Linked DNA regions of Homo sapiens: regions 1 and 3 are each linked to region 2. Evidence: fine-mapped expression QTL. A gene starts in region 2. Each other region holds a variant in brackets. All regions are shown on one strand. Distances are from middle to middle.

What was found. PIP is the estimated chance that this variant, and not a neighbour inherited with it, causes the effect.
Region 1: its variant is the best candidate, but not a certain one, in a credible set for the expression of KBTBD2 in whole blood (TOPMed, PIP 0.55).
Region 3: its variant is the best candidate, but not a certain one, in a credible set for the expression of KBTBD2 in whole blood (INTERVAL, PIP 0.70).

What each region holds. Positions count from the first base shown.
Region 1 is chr7:32,910,114-32,918,294 of GRCh38, forward strand. It overlaps the pseudogene RP9P. Among named protein-coding and RNA genes, the nearest start is that of KBTBD2, 22 kb to the left of the region's middle. The variant C/T (reference allele first, on the strand shown) is at 4,189.
Region 2 is chr7:32,888,241-32,896,421 of GRCh38, forward strand. It overlaps KBTBD2 (kelch repeat and BTB domain containing 2), which reads right to left and starts at 3,520. Exons shown (of 4, transcript NM_015483.3): 1 at 3,296-3,520. RefSeq lists enhancers at 520-1,045, 3,601-4,304, 4,010-4,069 and a silencer at 2,880-3,829.
Region 3 is chr7:32,835,788-32,843,968 of GRCh38, forward strand. It overlaps the pseudogene DPY19L1P2. Among named protein-coding and RNA genes, the nearest start is that of KBTBD2, 52 kb to the right of the region's middle. The variant T/A (reference allele first, on the strand shown) is at 4,487.

The DNA of each region.
Region 1 (8,181 bases), 22 kb after region 2:
GGAGTGGATTTTCCTTAATGTGTTGGTGTGAAGACATTGAATCTGATTGCCTTTTTAACACTTGTACAATAGCAGTACAAGTAGTGTGGAAAAAACTGACTCTGTTAGTAGTACTTAGTAGTTACTTCAATGGACTGGGGCTGTCTTTACAGTAGGAAGACATCAGGACTCTAGAAGGTTGGAAAAAATTGACAGTAGGTGGATAAGAAGCACAAAAATAGAATGGGGCCAATCAGTGGATACTTCTGCTTTGTAGTTCTGCCCATAGTTGGACCTTTGTCCTAGAGGCTAGATGAAAAGTCTGGTTATGTTTGGAAGCTGTTGGACTCCTGTGGCAGGTTGCATGTGTGGGGACAAGACTCTGAGACGGAGATTGTGGGAAAATTCACATTGGTGTTCTTGGGAATAACATCTCAGAGGGCAAAGGGAATGTGATTGGGCAGAGGGAGAAGTTGGGCTCTGAGACAATCACAACAAAGGCCTCAGCCATTCCCACCTAGGGCTTTCTTGCCAGTAACAGGGACTACAGGAATGTGCCAACAGAGCTGGCCAATTTTTTTATTTATTGTAGAGATGGGCTCTTGCTATACTGCCCAGCCTGGTGTCAAAACTTGTGGCCTCAAATAGTTGACTATTTTAGATTCATCTTGTAAGTGGTATCATGGGGTATTTGGCCTTTCGTGTCTGGCTTATCTCACTTTGTATAATGTCCTTTGGGTTCATCCATGTTGTCATAAATGGCTAGATTTGCTTCTATTTTAAGGTAAAGGATATTCCATTATACATGGATAGACCACATTTTCTTTCTCCATTCACTCATCATGGATGTGTAGTTTGCTTGCATGTCAGTGCTACTGTGAATAAAGCTGCACTGAACCTGAGTACAAATCTCTTCAAGATTGATTTCAATTCCTTCTGATATATACCCAGAAGTGGGATTGCTGGATCATATGGTAATTCTAGTTTTAATTTGTTGAGAAACTTCTATACTGTTTTCTACAGTGCTCACACCACTTTACTTTCCCATCAACAGTGTCTAAGGGCTCTTTCCTCACGTCCTAACCAACATTTGTTATCTTTTGGGTTTTCTTCTTTTTTCTTTTTTTTTGAGACCTAGTCTCGCTCTGTCGCCCAGGCTGGAATGCAGTGGTGCCATCTCGGCTCACTGCAAGCTCCGCCTCCTGGGTTCACACCATTCTCCTGCCTCAGCCTCCTGAGTAGCTGGGACTACAGGTGCCCGCCACCACGCCTGGCTAATTTTATGTATTTTTAGTAGAGACAGGGTTTCATGGTGTCAGCCAGGATGGTCTGGATCTTCTGACCTCGTGATCCGCCTGCCTCAGCCTCCCAAAGTGCCAGGATTACAGGCGTGAGCCACCGTGCCCGGCCTGGGTTTTTTTTTTAAACAGTCATTCTAACAGGTATGAGGTGATATTTCCTTATTATTTTGATTTGCATTTGCCTAATGATTACTGCTGTTGAGCACCTCTGCATATACCTGCTGGTCATTCTTCTTTGGAATCAATGTCTATTCAGTTTTTTGCTTTTTTTTTTTTTTTTTGAGACAGAGTCTCACTCTGTCACCCGGGCTGGAGTGCAGTGGCACAATCTCAGCTCACTGCAACCTCTGCCTCCTGGGTTCAAGCAATTCTTCCGCCTCAGCCTCCTAAGCATCTGGGACTACAAGGCGCACACCACCATACCCGGCTAATTTTTGTACTCTTAGTAGAGATAGGGTTTCACTATAATGATCAGGCTGATCTCAAAGTCCTAACCTCAGGTGATCCACCCACCTCGGCCTCCCAAAGTGCTGGGATTACAGGTGTGAGGCACCGCATCCGGCTCTTTGCCTATTTTTTAAATTTTATTTTTTGAGACAGGGTCTTGGTCTGTTGCCTCAGCTGGAGTGCAGTGGTGCAATCATGTCTCTCACTGCAGCCTCTAACTCCTGGCCCTTTGCCTATTGTTATAATAAACAGGTCATCTGGTTGTTTGCTATTGAGTTGTAGGAGTTTATTATATTTTGTAGATATTAACCCATGATTAGATTTATGGTTTGCAAACATTTTCTCCCTTTCCATGTATTGCCTTTTTGTTTTGTTGATGTTTCCTTTGCTGTGCAGAAGCTTTTTAGCTTGATGCAATCCCACTTGTCTATTTGTGCTTTTGTTACCTGTGCCTTCAATGTCATATCCAAGAAGCCACTGCCAAGGCCAATGTAGTCTATTCCCTGTTTTCTCCTACGAGTTTTACAGTTTCAGATTTTAGTTTAAGTCCTTAAACCATTTTGAGCAGATTTTTGTGTATAGTGTAAGATAAGGGACCAATTTTTTTTTGCAGGTGCATATTCAAATACAATTTTAGTTGCTACCACTGGAGGATGTACTAGTAGCATCAAGTGGTTACAAGCCAGGGATGCCACACAATACCCTACAATGCACAGAATCGAACCCTACCACTTAGAATTATTCAGTTCCTAAAATAAATGAGTCCGAGGTTGACAAAACGGCTGTAAAGGAGAGAAAAGTGCTAGATAGAGACATGGGATCAAGGGAGGATTTTATTTTTTTCAGAGACAGGGTCTCACTCTGTTGCCCAGGCTGGAGTGCAGCAGTGCCCTCATAGCCCACTGTAACCTCAAACTTCTGGGCTCAAATGGTCCTCCTGCCTTGGCCTACAAAAGTGCTGGGATTACAGGCATGAGCCACTGTGCGTGGCCTCCGGATTTTTTTTTTTCTTTTAAAGGGAGACTTGAGCTTGTTTAAATGCTGCTGGATAGGGAAATGGGCCACTTTATATACTGTAAGAGAATGGATAAATTGGTAGACTCTTTTGGAGGGTAATTTGGTAGAATCTGTCAAACTTAAAATATGTAATTCCATTATTAGGTAACTATTCTATTGAAATACTTGCATACATACATTAAGATATTTACTCAAGGCAAGGTGCGGTGGCTCACGCCTGTAATCCCAGCACTTTGGGAGGCCAAGGTGGGCGGATCACGAGGTCAGGAGATCGAGACCATCCTGGCTAACAGAGTGAAACTCCGTCTCTACTAGAAATACAAAAAATTAGCCAGGTGTGGTGGCGGGCGCCTATAGTCCCAGCTACTTGGGAGGCTGAGGCAGGAGAATGGCGTGAACCCGGGAGGTGGAGCTTGCAGTGAGCCGAGATCGTGCCACTGCCCTCCAGCCTGAGTGACACAGCGAGACTCTGTCTCAAAAAAAAAAAAAAAAAAAAAAAAACCCCAAAGATATTTACTCAAAAATTTTTATTTTCAGTCTTCTTTGTAGGAATGAGAAATGGGAAAGAATTGCATTCTGATAAATAGATTAATGGTTAAACAAATCATGGCACATTCAAACCAAGGAATTTTGTAGCCATTTGAAGCTTGTAGTGAGCAGTAAAATTGCCAACATACGGTGAGTGAAATGAAGTCACAGAACAGTATTACTAGTGTCTATCAGTTATGTAAAGCTAACCAAAAACCGTGCATTTACATGTGTGTGTTTGCTAATGCATTTTGATCAGGATCTGGAGCACTGTATCAAAGCATCATAAGTAGACTCCCTTTTCACTTTTTGTTCTCCAATGGCTCAGAATTGTGAACTCTTTACGGGCATGTATTTTACAGTTTTAAAACAATTGTTTTTTGTTTTTTTTTTTTGGTGGGGTTTGGGGAGCAGGGTCTCACTCTGTTGCCCAGGCTGGAGTGCAGTGGCATAATTTCTGCTCACTGCAACCTCCGCCTCCCAGGTTCAAGTGATTCTCCTGCCTCAGCCTCCCGAGTAGCTGGGATTACAGGTGTGTATCACCATGCCCAGCTAATTTTTGTATTTTTGATAGACATGGGGTTTCACCATGTTGGCCAGGCTGGTCTCAAACTCTTGACCTCAAGTGATCCACCTACCTCGACCTCCCAGTGTTGAGATTACAGGCATGAGCCAAAACAATTTTTAAATACTGGGGCAAGATCACAATAGAAAGGAAGAGTTTGAAGACGTGAGTGACATGGGATAAAGGAGGAGGAAGTTCCCTGAGGATTAGATGATGGTGACAGCAGTAGCAGCAGGAGCAGGTAACATTCATTTAGAGTTGAGATGTGCCACACCCTGCTCTAAATGCTTTATGGATATCAAGTCCCCTTATTCTCACTAGAAGTCTGGTAGACATGATTAGTCAAGGACA[C/T]GGAGGCACAGAGAGGTGGAGCAACTCCACAGCTAGCAAAGCTGGGATTCAAAGCCAGGCAGTCTGGATGCAGGGCCAGTGCTCCAGCCACTGCCCCCTACTGCTGGCTGTTGGTGGGATCCAGAGCATAGGTGATGGACTGGCCTGAGAGGAGGAGGGAAAGCTCATTAAACCTCTGGATCAGTTTGTTGCTGCATTAACACTTTCTCACAAATGTAAAAGCTCAAAACCACCACCACTGATTACCTCACAGTGGTGTAGGTCAGAAGCCTGAGCAGGCTCAACTGGGTTCTCGACCTTGCATCTCACAAACCCCAACCGAAGATGTCAGCAGAGGTGGGCTTCCATCTGGAGGCTCTGGGTAAGAATATGCATCCAGAACCATTGAGGGTGGCAGAATGCGGATCTTTTCAGCTGTAGGACTGAGAGCTCCATTTCCTTGCTGGCTGTTAGTCAGGAACCTTTGATGAGAGTTTGCTGCATCCCTCACCATGTGGCCCCTTCAACTCTAAAACCAGTAATGATGCGTGGAATCTTTCACAGGCTTGGACTCTCTGACCTCCTCTTTGGTTAACAGCCAGGGACAAATCGAGTTCCAGAGGGTTCTCATGATTTGGTTAGGAACACCCAGGTGGTCTCCCTTTCCTTGTACTGGTAACACAATCTAGTCACAGGAGTAAAGTGCATCCTATTAACAGTCTGAAGATTAGTGGGAGAAATCATGATGCCATTTTAGCCTGGGTAATTTATAAAGAAAAGACACCTGCCTGGCTCAAGGTTCTGCAGACAGTACGAGAAGTGTGGTGCTGGAATATCTTTCCGGTGAGGCCTCAAGAAGTTTACAGTCACGGTGGAAGGCAATGAGGAGCCAGCATATCACATGGTGACAGCAACAGCCAGAGCAAAAGAGGGAGGGAGAGGTGCCACTCACACTTAAACAACCAGATCTGGTGTGAACTGACTCATCACCAAGGGGATGGCACTAACCCATTCATGAGGGATCTGCCCCCATCATCCAGACACCTCCCACCAGGCCTCATCTCCAACACTGGGGATTACATTTCATCATGAGATTTGGAGCGGACAAACATCCAAACCATATCAGTAGGATGTCTGACATTCATCATACGATGTCTGAGTGAAGGGAGGTTTAAGGGCTTATTTTGTCTCCCTGGATAGTAATGGAAAATGTATATCTGAAAGAGATGTCTGAAAAAGAAAGTTTAAGTGGGTGGCTAGCACACTTCTGGTTTGCTAGTGGGCTTTTTGAGCTCAGTTCTCATTTGAGTTTGGAGATGGATTTGTAGGGGCTCTGGGATTTTTCCCCTGTAGTCTGTCTATAGGAGCAAAGCGGAAGATTTTGATTGATGCTTCTTTGGGGAAAGCTGGACAAAAGGATCACAGATCAGGGGAGATGACAGGCCAAAGTGATGTTCCTTGGAATCTAGGCTAGAAACAGAGGAGAAAAAAACAGAGTGAGGGAAAAGGGACGATTCACTTTGCAAGGGCTACAGGGGTGGACGGCTGGATTCCAGTTAAAGCAGGAAGTGGAAGAAGGCTTCAGTAAGAGGGTAGAGATCTAGAGCCCAGGTTCTCCAAGTGGGGTCCCCAAATCAACAGTGTCAGCATCATTTGTTAGCAAGGCAGATTCCCAGGTTCACCTCAGACCTAGGGAATGGAAAATTCTGGAAGTTGGTGAGTCGAGCACAGGAATCTGCATCTTAAGCATGCTAGTTGATTTGGATGTCTTGGAGGTTTGAGAATCATTGATGCAGCATCTTTTGTGTTGTATAAGAATGCTTTTATCATGAATGGGATTGCAGAGGGACAGTAGCCAATTCCTGGAAGAAGAGGACCGGCTGTACCTGGGTAAGAAATGCTGAGCATATGGCAGAGGACAGATGGCCTGTGTTCTGCATGACAAGGATAAGTGTAAGGCAAGGCTGAATCCACTGGCCTTACAGTTTTCAGAAATAGTTAAGTCCTGGCCATTCCAATCTCAACCGATTGTTTTCCTGAGGTGGTATTCCGAGGCCAAGAACAGGAGCATTGACTGATGAGACTTGAAGAAGGGTCAGTCTGGGCCTGGCTTGGCTGTTCCTTAAAAAGGAGGGAATCCAAACCCCAGGAAAAGTGGCAGAAAATGGGAGTGAGTTTCTGGGACCCTGACTGAGTGCCTAAAGCAGCAAGAGACCAGTGCTAGCCACAGAGGGACACACTTGCCTATGAGCAAGATCCGCTTCACTTTGGCGCAGCAAAGGATAGACTTCCTCTCCTCCAGCTGCAGACACACCCTGGCCTCCTGAGATGCCTCTACTGTGGCCTAGTTTCAGCTACAAGAGCACAGGTGGGCTGTGGTCAGGCAACAGGAAGAGGAAGAAAGGGAGGGATGGATTTTGGGATGTGGATACCTGACCTAGTACACAAATCCCCCTATATTCCTAAACCTTTTCTGAGTCAGTCACTCTGTGAAAATCATGGGACTCTGGCAGTAGAAAGCAAGTGAAGTAGAATGCAGCCACAGAAGATTTTTTATTGTTGTTTTAAGAACTCCCTAGCCCCCAAATCAACAAATCATGTCAGGTAAATATAAATATTTTAGCCAACCAGTGGCTCTCGCCTGTAATCCCAATGCTTTGGGAGGCCAAGGTGGAAGGATCACATGAGGCCAAGTGTTCAAGTCTACACTGTGGAGGGCACAAGCTGTGGGAGGGCCTGGAAGACACGCCTCAGAGATTCTCCCAGTCCTGCCACCCTGTGGGAGACACTTCTAAGGAATCGTAAACTCATGTGACCAGCAGGGAGGACAACGATGAAGAAACTTTCCTGCCTAAAATCAGCTGCTGTCCAGAGCTAGCACCTGGAAGGAGACACTCCCTCTCCTGGGGTCACATCTTCACTGCAAGGCGGGTGGGAGCTCACTGCTGTGACCCACATATACTCCTCTCTCGGCGTCTCTATCCTGCTACTTTCTCTGACTGCATCTTCCTCTGTTCCTTGGTCAGTGTTTGAGAAGAGAATGTTGAACAAGTCACATCCTTGTCACTCTGAGTCAGAACCCTCATTTGACTTGGAAGATTTGTGCTTCCGTTTTTTCTTCTTTTTCTTTTCTTTCTTCCTTTTCTTATGCTTTTCTTTCTTCTTCTTTTTCTTGTGTTTCTCTTTACCTTCAGAGGAACTGGAGCTGCTCCTATCTTCACCTGAGGTAGAATCCTCCAGTAACTGTTTTAACTGCTGTATCCTAAACATTCAAAATTGATCAAAGAACAGTCAGTTTTAGCTTTAACTTACAACAGTTGCTTAGATAAATATGTCATTCAAAAGCAATATGGAAGGATCATGAATAACCACATCACAAAGACAGTACTTATTTTTATTTTTACCTGTTTTCTCCATTCTTCTTCACCTGAATGCCTATGTTTATGTGACTGTAACCAGTGTACAAACCATTTTTGTATTCTTTTCCTTGTCCTAGTCATTTCTGTAGGTTCCCACAGTACTTACAATTATAAATTCTAACAGACGCATACTTTACTAAACCATTCCCCAACTGCTCAATTTCCTAATAGATAATCTACACCCTCAACAATTATAATTTAATGTAACCAGTTTGAAAAAACAAACTCTCCTGATTATTCACTCTCTAATCTTGTCTAGGTATAATCTTTAACAAAAGCTGAGATCCTTAAGACGTTAGAGGAGATAAACTGAATTACCTTGCATGGTACCAATTGTACCATGCAAGTAAATAGCACAACATGGGTGGCTAATATCAACTGCAGTGGTCAGAGAACTGGACCAAGCCTACAGCTTTAAGCTAACCCAAGGAGGAGGAGGCTGGCCTGCTGATTCCCCAACACTGGTCTTGTCAGCCATGACTCCTACCCAATAAATATTTCACAATTGAAGTGCCATGTTTACTATATCACTCTCCTAGTGCTAGAAGGTTTTTTTCCAACTTTATATAAGTTAAAACTTTAAATAGATACTATC
Region 2 (8,181 bases):
TGATGGTACAAATAATGAAACAAACTAGTGCTTAAAAGACGACCAATCTTGAGGAGGCTGATGTCAGTGTAAAAAACTAAATGAGAGTCCAGAAAGGCACCAGTCATAAAACAAGCCTTTCTTTATTTCAATGAGATAGTTTTCTCCTTAGGAAGGACAAGAGATGGGTGCTAGAAACAGTTTGCTTTCAAGTTATCAAAACAACCACGACAGTTGAGAATGTCTGGAAAAGACCATTTGTTTTTTAGATTGTCAACTGCTACACAAACAGAATTTTCTGGAGTTGTGACAGGCATCAATTAAAAAACAAACCAAAAAAAAACAAAAAAACCAAAAAAACAAACACCTGGCCTTTTGAAGAATCTATCAAGTTTTAAAAATTTCAGCATACTTGCAGTGAGCCGAGATCGCATCACTGCACTCCAGCCTGGGCGACACAGCGAGACTCCGTCCCAAAAAAAAAAAAAAAAAAATTTCAGCATAGCTTCCTCTGCTCTAGTCACATTCAGAGCTTAGGTCTGTTCTCTCTTTCCAACCATACTGATAGATGACATGGCTCCATCAGGTTAATTACGCTCAGCACCCTAAGTAAATTCAGGTCACAAGTACAAGCTGTACTATATTATGATTAACAAGTTATCTCAGTTTTAAAAAATTAAACAAGAACATAAAGGCAATGCCACCTGCGATACAATAATCATATGAGTATACTATGTCCTTTTATTTTGGGTATCACTTTTCCTTTTTCCTCTCACCTCTGCGCAGTGACTTAAGAAAGCTGGGGAAAAGTGGCCAGGCGCAATGGCTCACACCAGTAAATCCCAGCACTTTGGGAGGCCGAGGCGGGCAGATCACCAGGTCAGGAGATCGAGACCATCCTGGCTAACACGGTGAAACCCCATCTCTACTAAAAATACAAAAATTAGCCCAGCGTGGGCTACTCAGGAAGCTGAGGCAGGAGAATGGCGTGAACCCGGGAGGCGGAGCTTGCAGTGAGCCAAGATCGCGCCACCGCACTCCAGCCTGGGCGACACAGCGAGACTCCGTCTCTTAAAAAAAAAAAAAAAATTACTTGAGATCGGCCGTCTGCGGTAGCTCACGCCTGTAATCCCAGCACTTTGGAAGGCCGAGGTGAGGGGATCACGAGGTCAGGAGCTCGAGACCAGCCTGACCAACATGGTGAACCCTCATCTCTACTAAAAATACAAAAATTAGCCAGGCCTGGTGGGGCGCGCCTGTAATCCCAGCTACTCAGGAGGCTGAAGCAGGAGAATCACTTGAACCCTGAAGGCGGAGGTTGCAGTGAGCCGAGATCGTGACACTGCACACCAGCCTGAGTGACAAGAGACTCTGTCTCAAAAAAAAATTACTTGAGATCAACCTGTCATTTCTAATACTGAGTTATTTAAGTATCAGTTGGTCTATTCAAACTCTACAAAACTGAAAAGATTAAGCTAACAAAGGACTTTGAAATTTTCACTCATATTTTATGACACCAGGATCAATCCTTTTTCCTGGCCTTACTTGTCTTAGGAATGTGGGCAAAGAGAAGAGGGGAAGGGGGACTCTTTTCTAAATGTGTAACATTTTTGGAAAAACCAATGTTATCATTTGGCTTTTAAGACTGCATTCAAGTTTCTAGGAATTCACCTTGCACATTCAATGTTCAATGTTTAGGAATGAAAAGCTCAACATTTCTACCAACCAGAAGAAAATCTATGGAGGAGCATGGACATATGTACTGATACCTCTATTCCTTCCCATCTCCTTACATGCCCTGTGAATAACATAAGTTAACATTTTATAATGCTTCTTATGAGAGCAAAAAGGGGAGTAGAGTTACAGCACTCATAAAGTCTTCCTACAAAACTGTGCAAAGAAAACACCACTATGTGGAAACGTGTGGACTACAGAGCATGCTCAACAGAAAGGCCACAGCACTCCCGAGTTACTGACAGAAAACAACCTCTTGAGGATTCCAGGCCCCAACCTAAAAGGGCTTCAATAAGCACTAAGCCAACAGAAGATCAAAGTGAAGAAGTAAGCTTAACATTAGTTATCAGCCAGATGGAAAGAATAGCAAAATTCCACATCATCGAGATTAGAAAACAACCGACTGGCTTTTCAATTTACTTTAGATCAGAAAAAAAAGTCGGGGAAAAAAGTCCTTATCAAAGGTTAACCAAACTAAGTCATTCACAATTACAAGAGATCTAAGACCCATACTACTCAAATTCGGCAAAAATGTACAACTCAGAGGGAAGAGGGGGAAGATCCCTGTTAATTAGTTGCCTCGATAAAAGAAAATATCATTTTGGTCAGTGCACAGCGTTGATAGGGTTTCGTTTCTCAATGCCTAAATGCTGTGAGCCCGACGTACAGATTCAAGTATAAACAACACGTGACCAGTCCTGTTGCCTACGTCTTCATAAGGCTAATTGACACAGAAGATAGTTCACACACACACCCTTTTAAAGTTCATTTTGTATTTTGAATTCTTTTCCTATTTTCACTGGAAGGGGTCACCGTGGTAGCCCGTGGGATGGACGCTCCTCTACCTTTTGAGGCAGGTAGAGTTCTTAGATAGCTAAGCCCAAGGGAAAAAAAGATGTTAACTCAAAATAACCGCCCCACACCAAACTAAGCGATTTTTCTATTCCCCGGTTGTTCAATCCGTAGGGAGAAGGAGGTGGTCGAATTCAAGGAAGTTAAAGATTTCACAAAGTAAACACGTACACAATTTTCCGTTTCAAAGGGCAGTTTCTGCTTTCTTTTTTAAGTCGATATAGACCATAACAGGAGCTCTGTTCGTCTAGACCTCTCTTGGTTAGTTCAGATGTACGCGGGGGGAATACAGAAGGAAGGGGGTGTCCTCCTTCGGCCCACCATGTCGCGAACACGTCGCGAGTCTTTAAGGGAAACAGCTTTACTTCGGTAAGGGCGGGCGCGAGCCGAGGCCAAGGCGCCGCCCGGGAGCCCCGCGGGCGCCGAGGCGCCCGGTGCCGGGGCCGGAAACGCCCAGCTAGCGGCGTACCGGGCCGCCCCTTCCCCGCGGACCTGCCCGGAGCTCCGCCGCCCTGGGGCCGCCGCGGGGTGCGGAGGGCGGCGCCGGCCGCCCGCGCCCCTCCCCCGCCCGCGGCGGAAGCGTCTCGGGTTTGAAAGATGCCGCGGCCGCCGCCTCCCACCCGCCGAGCCACAAAGGGCCGAGCCCCCTCCCGCCACAGCCCTCCTCCCCGGCCCCTCCACAGGTCGCCGCGGGCTCCCAGCCTGCCCGGCGCTACTGTCGCCTGCTCACCCGCGTCCCTCGGTCCGGAGGTGTGGGATCCGCTCCAGCCGGTGGCCCCGTCCACACTGGGCCCCTCCGGCGCGGCGGCGGGGGCGTGGCCCTCCCGCCGCGGCCTCGCCTGGGGTCTCGCCTCCGCCTCCGGCCGAGGAAGGCTGGCGCCGCCGCCTCTTCCTTCCGGTTTCCCCTCGCACCCTCCCTCGCTTGGTCCGTCCAGCGCGGAAAGCAGCGTCCTCTGCGGGCGCCGCCGCACGCTCCTCAGGGCCCGACCACCGCCAGACTCCTCCCCCGGGAGCCGCGCCGCCCGCCCGCCCGCGCCGCCTTGTCAGTCCGGGGCCGCGAGACGCCGGGCCCGCCGCCCCCGCCGCCCCCGCCCCCGCCCCCGCCGCGCGCTCTCGCCCCCGCCCGCGGCCCGGGAACGCGCGCGCAATGGACCGCTGGCCAGCCTGCCGCGCCCGCCCTCGCCACGCCGCCCTCCCGCCTCGCGCGCGCGCGCGCCTGTCGGCACCAGCGGCAGTTTTGCAGTTTCCCGGGTCCTCGCGACCGTCCCCCGCCCCTCCCTTACTCTAGCTGCCCCCGCCCTTTTCCTCTGCCGGATGCCACCGGAAAGCCAAAACAATTGGGGCCGCGCAGGCGCGAAAGAGGAAACGGAAAGAGCAGGAAGGGCGGGGGCGGCGCGAGGTGACGGGAAGCGTAATTGAAGGGGGTTCCCGGGAAAGGTCATGGGAGAGCCCTTGAGGGGCGCGTGCGCGGCAGAGGGGCACTCCGAGTAGCCGCGGCGGCCGAGGCCTTGGGCCTAGACGGGCGGATGGAGAGGCCCGACAAGTTCATTGCTAGGAAATCTAGAGAGCAAAACACCAATTGTTATGCTGAAGGAGGTGTTTTATCCCTTGGAATTTCCCCTGAAATACAGATTTTTGCAGGCTGGCTCGGAAAGTGGGAATGAGTAGGACTAAACAATACCAGACCGGGGGCAGGAGAAAGTTGAGGAGGCGTTGGGCGGGTCGCTTTGTTGCCGCAGCACCTCTTCTCCAAACCATGCCCTCCTCTCTCCAGAGCCGCTTCGGCTTTTCCCAAGGCCAAGGAAGAAGTCAGAGCAGCACCCAAAAGGGCCCGCAGTTGGGGGAGGTTAGGGGAAAAGGGAGAGAGAGACATCTGGGTGCGGACGGCAGCTCCAGCGTCTGAAGCCTTCCGTTGTGTGCTGCAATGCGGCGGCTGCACGCCCCCAACCCCCCGAGTTCCAAAAGAGCGCCTTCAGCGTTGCTTCGCAAAGCGAAGCGTTTGTAGCAGCAGCTAATGGCTGTGGCCCGTACTGTTTTAGTTAACTTGGCACAGCTTGCTGGCAGGCAGGCTGTAAATTTGCTAGGAGCTATTCGTGGATCAAAAAATTGTCAGAAATGCCCACACAGACTCCACCTACCTTCCTAACTTACAGTCTTGGCACAAGCCCAATCTAGAGAATATAGATGACTAATTATAATCTGAAAGGCCATACAGTACATTACTGAAGGGAGCCTCTTCCTGTAAACTAGGCTAGATCAACTGAATGCACACCAAGATGCGTGTTATCAGGAACTACTGATAAAGGATTGTTTTACTGTAGAATCTGGAAACTACATTCAACAAATCTTCATTGAGTTTCCAGCATGCTACCACTGTACTTAGTCTAATTAAGTAGTTAAGTGGTATGATATCAAACAAGCTATACAAAAGATTAAAGTCATTTAACACACACTTGAGCACCTACTTTGTGCCAGATTGGGTATGAGAGATGCGGTCTAAACATGCAGACAACAACAACAAATGATACCTGCGGCAAGGAGTTCGTGATTCATCCTGTGGGCAACAAAAAGCCACTTAAGATTTTTAAGCAGGAGAATATCTTGATAAGATTTTAGAGAAAAAATTCTAAAGCATGATAGATAGCAGACTGGAAGCAGGGATACTAGTTAGGACGCTGTTAATGCAGTCCAGACATGAGTTGGAGAGAAAGTCCAAACTAACAGTGTCAGTGAGAATGGAGAAGCAGAGATACATTTGAAAACTAGCCAGCTATGATAAATAAGACTTGATTACCTAGAGGATGAGGGGAAATAAGAAATCAAGGATAACTGAGTTTTTTAGTTAGGGTGATTAGATGGTGTTATCAGTGACTATAAGAGGAGTAATGAATTGTGAGGATGAAAGAGAGGACTAAAGTTGTCCTTTTAATGGCTGTACAGTTAGGAATGCATTTGGGCCCACATTTTTTTCGAAAAGATTCCATTATAATAGCTTAAACAAGACCTCAAATCTACAGGTAGGCAGTTACCTTTGTTGGTTCAATAGCTCAAGAACAGCAGGGCCATCATTTCTGTGATTCTCTCGACATTGACTTCATGGTTGCAATATGGCTGCAGCAGTTTTAGCCTTCGCACCTTTGTTCAAGGCAAGAAGAGGGGAAAGGGGGTGGCTTCCACCATCCATGGTCTTTTTTTTCTTCAGGAAAGTGAAAGCTTTCTCAGGATACTACATCTCCCAAACTCAGCAGACTTCCACAAACATCTCATTGTCTAGAATTGTAATTTGGCCACCTATAAAGATTACAAAAGAGAAAAACACTGGGAATGGATATTGGGTCAGACAAGTCAGACAAATAGCAGTCGGCTAGTTAGTTAATATTTAAAGCATCCTTCTTTAACACTTAAAACCCTGAGAGCTGTTAGGATGGATTGATGTTCCTAGGTTTCAAAAAAGGCCAATCGCTTTGGTGTGTTATCTTAACTGGGAAAAGAACAGGTTGAACATTTATACTCAAATAGTTGTAGTTGTTTGCCATCCCTTATCTCAAGGTTCCCATCCCCTTAAACAAAGTCTCACAGGGGACTGGAACAATGAGGAAGAAGGGACTGGTGCAGTCAGGGGAGGGTGACTCCCGTTCAGCTTTCCTTTTGCAGCTGCCATCTTAGAATAACTGTAGGTTCTTGGCATCGTTAATTTGATGTTCCGCCTAAAACACCATCTTAATTCCCTTAGAGATCTTGTCTCTGAGCTTAGAAGGCTCTGAGTGATCACAGCAAGTTCCAGTGTCCATTTTAGGGAGTCATACATCAGTATCTTCTAGCAGTTACACAAACTCTTTTGGAATGTACAGCATCTCTCTTGTGATCTGTATCCAAAACATTATTTCATGCAACCCTTTTCCATTAACAAGGCATCTTTCCTTTTAATTATTAATAAGTCATCTTTCCTTTCAACTGATGGCCACAAAAAGTATCATCCTAAAACTGTACTTTAAACATTGTTATGATTCTAGAACAGAAAGAAGATAGTAATGATTCCTAGAAAAATAAACATGCAGCCGGGCACAGGTGGTTCACGCCTGTAATCCCAGCACTTTGGGAGGCCGAGGCGGGGGGATCACCTGATGTCAGGAGTTTGAGACCAGCCTGGCCAACATGGTGAAACCCCATCTCTACTAAAAATACAAAAATTAGCTGGCCGTGGTGGTCGGCACTTGTAATCCCAGCTACTCGGGAGGCTGAGGCAGTAGAATGACCACCACGCCTAGCTAATTTTTGTATTTTTTGTGTAGAGGGGTCTCGCCATGTTGCCCAGTCTGCATTTTCTTTTTCTGAGACAGGGTCTCACTCTGTCGCCCAGGCTGGAGTGCAGTGGTGTGATCGCAGCTCACTGCAGCCTCGAACTCCCAGGCTCAAGTGATCCTCCCACCTCCGCCCCCCAATTGGCTGGGACTACAGGCATGTGCCACCACACCCAGGTAATTTTTAAAAATTTTTTGTAGAGATAGGATCTTGCTACATTGCCCATGCTGGTCTCGAACCCCTGGCCTCAAGCAACCCTCTGGCCTCAGCCTCCCATAATGCTGGAATTACAGATGTGAGCCTCTATGCCCCACCCAGAGTCTATGATCTTAACCACTCTGCTTTACTGACTTCTGTCCTCCTACCAAATTGCTTCCCAGCATCACTTCAAATCTTAGGAACTGCCATATTATCTCAGCAATATAGTTTAAGTAGTATGAGCAGAAAGGAAAAGGGGGTGATTTTTCTTCTCCCTTCTCTCTTCTAATCAGGTAGGAAAAATATGTCTCAGAATCCCGAACAGAGTACCCCTGATGTCTTCTTGGCCAGGATAATGAGATTGTTGTTATGGTCTCCAGTCATTAGTTGGGAGAGAGAGAGGAAAGAGTTCCCCTTTCTCTGAGCACATTCCTTTTTTTTTTTCCTTCAATCTGGACAACATCTTCGTTCTCTCAGCAAGGAAGAAGTAGATGAGACCACCAACCATGTTTCCCACAAAGACAATCAAACCATGAGACCCACATAGGAAATGGAAGTGTATAAGCACCAAACTGAGTTTTATCCTCAATCTGCCATTCAGTAGCTGTATGATTCTGGCAAGTTATTTAACCTATCTGAACCTGGTCATATTATGCTGAATGAATGAGGACCGGGTGCAGGTAGCTCATGCCTGTAACCCCAGCACTTTGGGAGGCAGAGGTCAGCAGATCACTTGAGGTCAGGAGTTCGAGACCAGCCTGGCCAACATGGTGAAATGCCATCTCTACTAAAAATACAAAAAAAATTAGGTGGGCGTGGTGGCAGGTGCCTGTAAGCCCACCTACTTGGGAGGCTGAGGCAGGAGAATCACTTGAATCTGGGAGGTGGAGGTTGTAGTGAGCAGAGATCGTGCTACTGCACTCCAGCCTGGGCAACAGAGGGAGACTCCATCTCAAAAAAAAAAAAAAAAAAGAAGGAATGAGGATTCAAGACAGTGTAACAAAGTGCGTAGCACATAGTAAGCATTTATTAAAAACAGTTTTTAATATCATATTCTTTTTCACATGTTAAACATAGAATTACCATATTATCCAATAATTCCATTTCTAGGTATGT
Region 3 (8,181 bases), 52 kb before region 2:
CAGTTACCTATCTTGGCTTCTCATAAAAACACATGTGCCCTCCCTGCCGATCATGTCCACCTGATCTCTTAAAACCCAGCACTTTCTACAAAACAACAATTCCTTTCCTTCCTAGGCATGGTTGGATACTTTCAACTTTAGATGCCTGGTTTTGCCATTCTAAAACCATTTTATAAACTCACAAAAGGAAACCTAGCTGACCCCATAGATCCTAAATCCTTTCCCCACTCCTTTCCGTTCCTTGAAGACAGCTTTAGAGACTGCCCCCACTCTAGCTCTCCCTGACTCATCCCAACCCTTTTCATTACACACTGCTGAAGTGCAGGGCTGTGCAGTCAGAATTCTTACACAAGGACCAGGATGGCATCCTGTAGCCTTTTTGTCCAAACAACTTGACCTTATTGTTTTAAGCTGGCCATTATGTCTCCATGCAGTGGCTGCTGCCGCTCTAATACTTTTAAAGGCCCTTAAAATCACAAACTATGCTCAACTCACTCTCTACAGCTCTCATAATTTCCAAAATCTATTTTCTTCCTCACACCTGACGCATATACTTTCTGCTCCCTGGCTCCTTCAGCTGTACTCACTCTTTGCTGTGTCTCCCACAATTACCATTGTTCCTGGCCCGGACTTCAATCCAGCCTCCCACATTATTCCTGATACCACACCTGACCCTCATGACTGCATCTCTCTGATCCACCTGACGTTCACCCCATTTCCCCACATTTCCTTCTTCCCTGTTTCTCACCCTGATCACACTTGGTTTATTGATGGCAGTTCCACCAGGCCTAATTGCCACACACCAGCAAAGGCAGGCTATGCTGTAGCACAAGCCACTAGCCCGCCTCTTAAAACCTCTCATTTCCTTTCCATTGTAGAAAACTGTCCTCAAGGAAATAACTTCTCAGTGTTCCATCTGCTATTCTACTACTCCTCAAGGATTATTCAGGCCCCCTCCCTTCCCTACACATCAAGCTTAAGGATTTGCCCCCACCCAGGACTGGCAAATTAGCTTTACTCAACATGCCCTGAGTCACAAAAACTAAAATACCTCTTAGTCTAAGTAGACACTTTCACTAGATAGGTAGAGGCCTTTCCTACAGGGTCTGAGAAGGCCACCACAGACATTTCTTCCCTTCTGTCAGACATAATTCCTCAGTTTAGCCTTCCCACCTCTATACAGTCTGATAACAGACCAGCCTTTATTAGTCAAATCAGCCAAGCAGTTTTTCAGACTCTTAGTATTCAGTGAAACCTTTATATCCCTTACAGTCCTCAGTCTTCAGGAAAAGTAGAACATACTAAAGGTCTTTTAAAAACACACCTTACCAAGCTCAGCCACCAACTTAAAAAGGAATAGACAATACTTTTACCACTTTCCCTTCTCAGAATTCAGGCCTGTCCTCAGAATGCTACAAAGTACAGCCCATTTGAGCTCCCATATAGATGCTCCTTTTTATTAGGCCCCAGTATCATTCCAGACACCAGACCAACTTGGACTGTGCCCCAAAAAACTTGTCATCCCTACTGTCTTCTGTCTAGTCATACTCCTATTCACTGTTCTCAGCTACTCATACGTGCCCTGCTCTTGTTTACACTGCCAGTTTACACTGTTTCTCCAAGCCATCACAGCTGATATCTCCTGGTGCTAGCCCCAAACCGCCACTCTTAACTCTTATAGTAAATAAATAATCTTTGCAGGCAAGGCTATGCTGAACCTCCTTAGGCACTCTCTAATTAGATGTCCTAGGTCCTCCCAATTCTTAGTCCTTTAATACCTGTTTTTCTCCTTGTCTTATTCCATTTAGTTTTTCAATTCATACAAAACTGTATCCAGGTCATCACCAATAATTCTAAATGACAAATGTTTCTTCTAACAACCCCACAATATCACCCCTTACCACAAAATCTTCCTTCAGCTTAATCTCTCCCACTCTAGGTTCCCACGCCACCCCTAATCCCGCTCAAAGAAGCCCTGAGAAACATCGCCCATTATCTCTCCATACCACCCCCAAAAATTTTTGCCGTCCCAACACTTTACCACTATTTCATTTTATTTTTCTTATTAATATAAGAAGACAGGAATGTCAGGTCTCTGAGCCCAAGCTAAGCCATCGTATCCCCTGTGACCTGCATGTACACATCCAGATGGTGGGTTCCTGCCTTAACTGATGACATTCCACCACAAAAGAAGTGAAAATGGCCTGTTCCTGCCTTAACTGATGACATTGTCTTGTGAAATTCCTTCTCCTGGCTCATCCTGGCTCAAAAGCTCCCCAACTGAGTACCTTGTGACCCCCACTCCTGCCCACCGGAGAAAAACCCCCCTTTTTCCTTTACCTACCCCAATCCTACAGAAGGGCCCCACCCCATCTCCCTTCGCTGACTCTCTTTTCGGACTCAGCCCGCCTGCACCCAGGTGATTAAAAGCTTTATTGCTCACACAAAGCCTGTTTGTTGGTCTCTTCACATGGACGCGCATGAAAGCTACATGACAGGATTGTTTAAAAACTAAAGTAATTTAAGGGGAAAAAAGGAAATGAGATCAGGAATGTAAGAAGTGCCCTGCTTTCTCTGCAGTTATATAATGCATACTGATTTTTAACATGTACATTCATTTTTCTAGGCCTGGTTGCAGTATGCCTGAAATTTGGGATGTAGAAGATCCTGCCAATGCTGGGAAAACTCCCTTATGTAACCTCTTGGTGAAGGATTCCAAACCTCACTTCACCACTGTATTCCAGAACAGTGTTTACAAAGTCCTAGAAGTTGTAAAAGAATGACTGCTACATGACCTGCTGCCTACGGAGAACTACATCTCTAATGGTTTTAATGTTTTGCTAAGTCATGTGTTGTTCATATCCCAAAAACTTTTATAGGTAACTGTTTTCAAATAGAAAATGTTTTATTTGGTCAATTTGAATGTCATTCTAATTATAAAAATGACTCATACCTTTCATGCGCGTCCGTGTGAAGAGACCACCAAACAGGCTTTGTGTGAGCAACATGGCTGTTTATTTCACCTGGGTGCAGGTGGGCTGAGTCCAAAAAGAGAGTCAGCATAGGGAGATAAGGGTGGGGCCATTTTATAGGATTTGGGAAGGTAATGGAAAATTACAATCAAAGGGGGTTGTTCTCTGGTGGGCAGGGGTGGATCTCACAAAGTACATTCTCAAGTGTGGGGAGAATTACAAAGAACCTTCTTAAGGGTGGGGGAGATTACAAAGTACATTGATCAGTTAGGGTGGGGCAGGAACAAATCACAATGGTGGAATGTCATCAGTTAAGGCTGTTTTTACTTCTTTTGTGGATCTTCAGTTACTTTAGGCCATCTGAATGTATACGTGCAAGTCACAGGGGATGCGATGGCCTGGCCTGGGCTCAGAGGCCTGACATTCCTGCCTTCTTATATTAATAAGACAAATAAAACAAAATAGTGTTGAAGTGTTGGGGCGGCGAAAATTTTTGGGGGGTGGTATGGAGAGAGAATGGGTGATGTTTCTCAGGGCTGCTTCAAGCGGGATTAGGGGTGGCGTGGGAACCTAGAGTGGGAGAGATTAAGCTGAAGGGAGGTCTTGTGGTAAGGGGTGATATTGTGGGGATGTTAGAAGAAACATTTGTCGTATAGAATGATTGGTGATGGCCTGGATACGGTTTTGGATGAATTGAGCGAGCTTAATGTGTAGGGAAGGGAGGGGGCCTGAATAATCCCTGAGGAGTAGTAGAATAGCAGATGGAACACTGAGAAGTTATTTCCTTGAGGATAGATTTCCACGATGGAAAGGAAATGAGAGGTTCTAAGAGGCGGGATAGTGGCTTGTGCTATAGCATAGCCTGCCTTTGCTGGTGTGTGGCGATTAGGCCTGGTGGAACTGCCATCAATAAATCAAGCGTGATCAGGGTGAGGAACAGGAAAGAAGGAAATATGGGGAAATGGGGTGAATGTCAGGTGGATCAGAGAGATACAGTCATGGGGGTCAGGTGTGGTATCAGGAATAATGTGGGAGGCCAGATTGAAGTCCGGGCCAGGAACAATGGTAATTGTGGGACTTAACAAAGAGTGAGTACAGCTGAAGGAGCTGGGGAGCAGAAAGTATATGCGTCAGGTATAAGGAAGAAAAAGATTTCGGAAGTTATGAGAAATGTAGAGTGAGTTGAGCATAGTTTGTGATTTTTAGGGCCTCTAGAAGTATTAAAGCATCGGCAGCCGCTGCATGCAGACATGAGGGCTAGGCTAAAACAGTAAGGTCAAGTTGTTTGGACAGAAACGCTGCAGGGTGTGGTCCTGGCTCTTGTGTAAGAATTCTGACCATGCTAACCATGCCTAGGAAGGAAAGGAGTTGTTGTTTTGTAAGGGATTGAGGTTTGGGAGATTAATCGGACACGATCAGCAGGGAGAGCATGTGCGTTTTTATGAGAATTATGCTGAGATAGGTAACAGATGAGGATGAAATTTGGGCTTGACTGAAGTAATGGGGGCTGTCTG[T/A]GAAGCCTTGCGGCAGTACAGCCCAGGTAATTTGCTGAGCCTAATGGGTGTCAGGGTCAGTCTAAGTGAAGGCAAAGAGAGGCTGGGATGAAGGGTGCAAAGAAATAGTAAAGAAAGCATGTTTGAGATCCAGAACAGAATAATGGGTAATAGAGGGAGGTATTGAGGATAGGAGAATATATGGGTTGGGCACCATGGGGTGGATAGGCAAAACAATTTGGTTGATAAGGCGCAGATCCTGAACTAACTTGTAAGCCTTGTCTGGTTTTAGGACAGGTAAAATGGGGGAATGGTAAGGAGAGTTTATAGGTTTTAGAAGCCCATACTGTAGCAGGCGAGTGATAACAGGCTTTAATCCTTTTAAAGCATGCTGTGGGATGGGATATTGGCGTTGAGCAGGGTAAGGGTGATTCGATTTTAACGGGATGGTAATGGGCATGTGATCGGTTGCCAGGGAAGGAGTAGAGATGTCCCATATTTGTGGGTTAAGGTGGGGGGATATGAGAGGAAGATGCAAAGGAGGCTTTGGGCTGGGGAGAAGGGTGGCAATGAGATGCAGCTGTAGTCCAGGAATAGTCAGGGAAGCAGATAATTTGGTTAAAATATCTCGGCCTAATAAGGGAACTGGGCAGGTGGGGATAACTAAAAAAGAGTGCATAAGAGTGTTGTCCAAGTTGGCACCAGAGTGGGGGAGTTTTCAGGGGTTTTGAAGCTTGGCCGTCAATACCCACAACAGTTATGGAGGCAAGGGAAACAGGCCCTTGAAAAGAAGGTAATGTGGAGTGGGTAGCCTCCGTATTGATTAAGAAGGGGACGGACTTATCTTCCACTGTGAGAGTTACCCAAAGCTCGGCGTCCGTGATGGTCTACAGGGCTTCTGAGGCGATCGGGCAGCATGAGTCTTCAACCGCTAAGCCGAGAAGGAGTCAGTCAGAGAGCCTTGGGCCAGAGTTCCAGGGGCTCCGGGAGTGGCTGCCAGGTGAGTTGAACAGTCCGGTTTCCAGTGGGGTCCCACACAGATGGGACACGGCTTAGGAGGAATCCTGGGCTGCAGGCATTCCTTGGCCTGGTGGTCAGATTTCTGGCACTTGTAGCAAGCTCCTGGGGGAGGAGGTTCTGGAGGAACGCCTGGCCGCTGCGGTTCAGGCGTTTGGAAGTTCTTGTGTGCTGGAGATGTGGCTGGGATTTGTCTCACAGTGGAGGCAAGGAATTGCAACTTTTTTCTATTATTGTACACCTTGAACGCGAGGTTAATTAAATCCTGTTGTGGGGTTTGAGGGCCGGAATTTAATTTTTGGAGTTTTATTTAATGTCGGGAGCAGATTGGGTAATAAAATGTATATTGAGAATAAGATGGCCTTTTGACCTTTTAGTTTCTAGGGCTGTAAAGCATCTCAGGGTTGCTGCTGAACGAGCCATGAACTGGGCTGGGTTTTTATATTTGATGAAAAAGAGCCTAAACGCTTCTGATTTGGGATAAAGAAAAAGGAGCATGAACCTTGACTATGCCTTTGGCTCCAGCCACCTTTTTAAGAGTAAATTGCTGGGCAGGTGGGGGAGGGCTAGTCACAGAACGAAACTGTAAGCCGGACCAGGTGTGAGGAGGGGAGGCGATAAAAAGATTACAGGGTGGAGGAGCGGAGGCTGAGGAAGAATTGGGACCTAGCTTGGACTGGCGAGGAGGGGAGAGGTCAGATGGGTCTGTAGAAAAGGAAGATTAGAAACACTTGGTGATGCTTGGGGTTGGGACTGAGGTGACAGGCGGGAGGGAAAGAAGGAAGATTTGGGACGAGTTGCACTGGGCACAGAGACTAGGAAGGGACTGATGTGTAAAAGAATGCCTGGATGTCAGGCACCTCAGACCATTTGACCCTTTTACGACAAGGATTATTTAGATCTTGTAGGATGGAAAAATTCAAAGTGCCATTTTCCGGCTATTTGGAACTACTGTCGAGTTTGTATTGGGGCCAAGCGGTGTTGCAGAAGAAAATAAGGTGTTTAGGTTTTAGGTGAGGTGTAAGTTGAAGAGGTTTTAAGTTCTTGAGCACACAGGCTAAGGGAGAAGAGGGAGGAATGGAGGGTGGAAGGTTGCCTATATTGAAGGAAGCAAACCCAGAGAAAAGAGAACGTAGAGACATGAAGGGAAGGGGTTTGGGGGTTCTTTCCCCCTAGAAAAGCGGGACTTGCCACTAAGGGTGAAGGAGAAGGGGTTGAGGGGTACTTGCCCCTGCCCCAGGAAAGCAGAGAAGGGGTAGAGACAAGGAGAGAAGGGGTTGGGGTACTTGGCCATTCCCCAGGAAAGCAGAGAAGGGGTAGAGACAAGGAGAGAAGGGGTTGGGGTAATTGCCCTTTCCCCAGAAAAGTGGGACTTGCCGCTAAGGGTGAAGGACCAAGGCAGGCGTCCCTGCGTGGTCTGACACCCTTGAAACGTGGGTGTATAATCAGAGAGGCGTCCCTGCAATGATTAAACACCAAGGGAAGACTTCCTTCCCAGTCCGTGACCGGCGCCGGAGTTTTGGGTCCACGGATAAAACGTGTCTCTTTTGTCTCTACCAGAAAATGAAAGGAATTGAAATTAAGAGAAGGGAGAGATTGAAGTGTAGCACCAAGATTGAAAGGAGAAAGAGGTTGACGGATAGTGAAGGAAGTTGGAGAAGAGAGTAAAGAGAGGCCGCTTACCGGATTTGAAATTGGTGAGATGTTTCTTGGGCTGGTCTGTCTGAGGACCTGAGGTCGTAGGTGGATCTTTCTCATGGAGCAAAGAGCAGAAGGAGGGGGGATTGATCTCCCAAGGGAGGTCCCCCGATCCAAGTCACGGCACCAAATTTCATGCGCGTCCATGTGAAGAGACCACCAAACAGGCTTTGTGTGAGCAACATGGCTGTTTATTTCACCTGGGTGCAGGTGGGCTGAGTCCGAAAAGAGAGTCAGCATAGGGAGATAAGGGTGGGGCCGTTTTATAGGACTTGGGAAGGTAATGGAAAATTACAATCAAAGGGGGTTGTTCTCTGGTGGGCAGGGGTGGATCTCACAAAGTACATTCTCAAGTGTGGGGAGAATTACAAAGAACCTTCTTAAGGGTGGGGGAGATTACAAAGTACATTGATCAGTTAGGGTGGGGCAGGAACAAATCACAATGGTGGAATGTCATCAGTTAAGGCTGTTTTTACTTCTTTTGTGGATCTTCAGTTACTTTAGGCCATATGGATGTATATGTGCAAGTCACAGGGGATGCGATGGCCTGGCCTGGGCTCAGAGGCCTGACAATACCTTTATCAATTGGTTACTATTTCAATGCCCCCTTTAAAATTTGCTATGCAAATGAGTATATGCTTGTACTTGACTTCCATATTTGTGCTAAAGTGAGCAAAGTTATCTATATAAAGAAAACACAATGAGTTGTGACAAGGATGACGTGAAAATACAGGACAATTCTGACAATGTAGGGGCTGATTTTATAGTGTAAGAACTATTAATGCCCCTTGCTTCTTTTTTCTGCCTCTTGCTCTTGTCTTTTGGACATTTCAGTGATTGTAAGTTCTTCGGTCATGTCAGCCCCTGTCATCAACTTGAGTTACAGTAGATGGGGCAGACATGGAGTGTTTGCTTTGCGGAACTATCTGTCTGTTTTGCTTCCTTGTGCTCTTTTTGTTCTCTGTTCTCCTGTTAATGAAGCTTTTCCTGCCCATTATTAA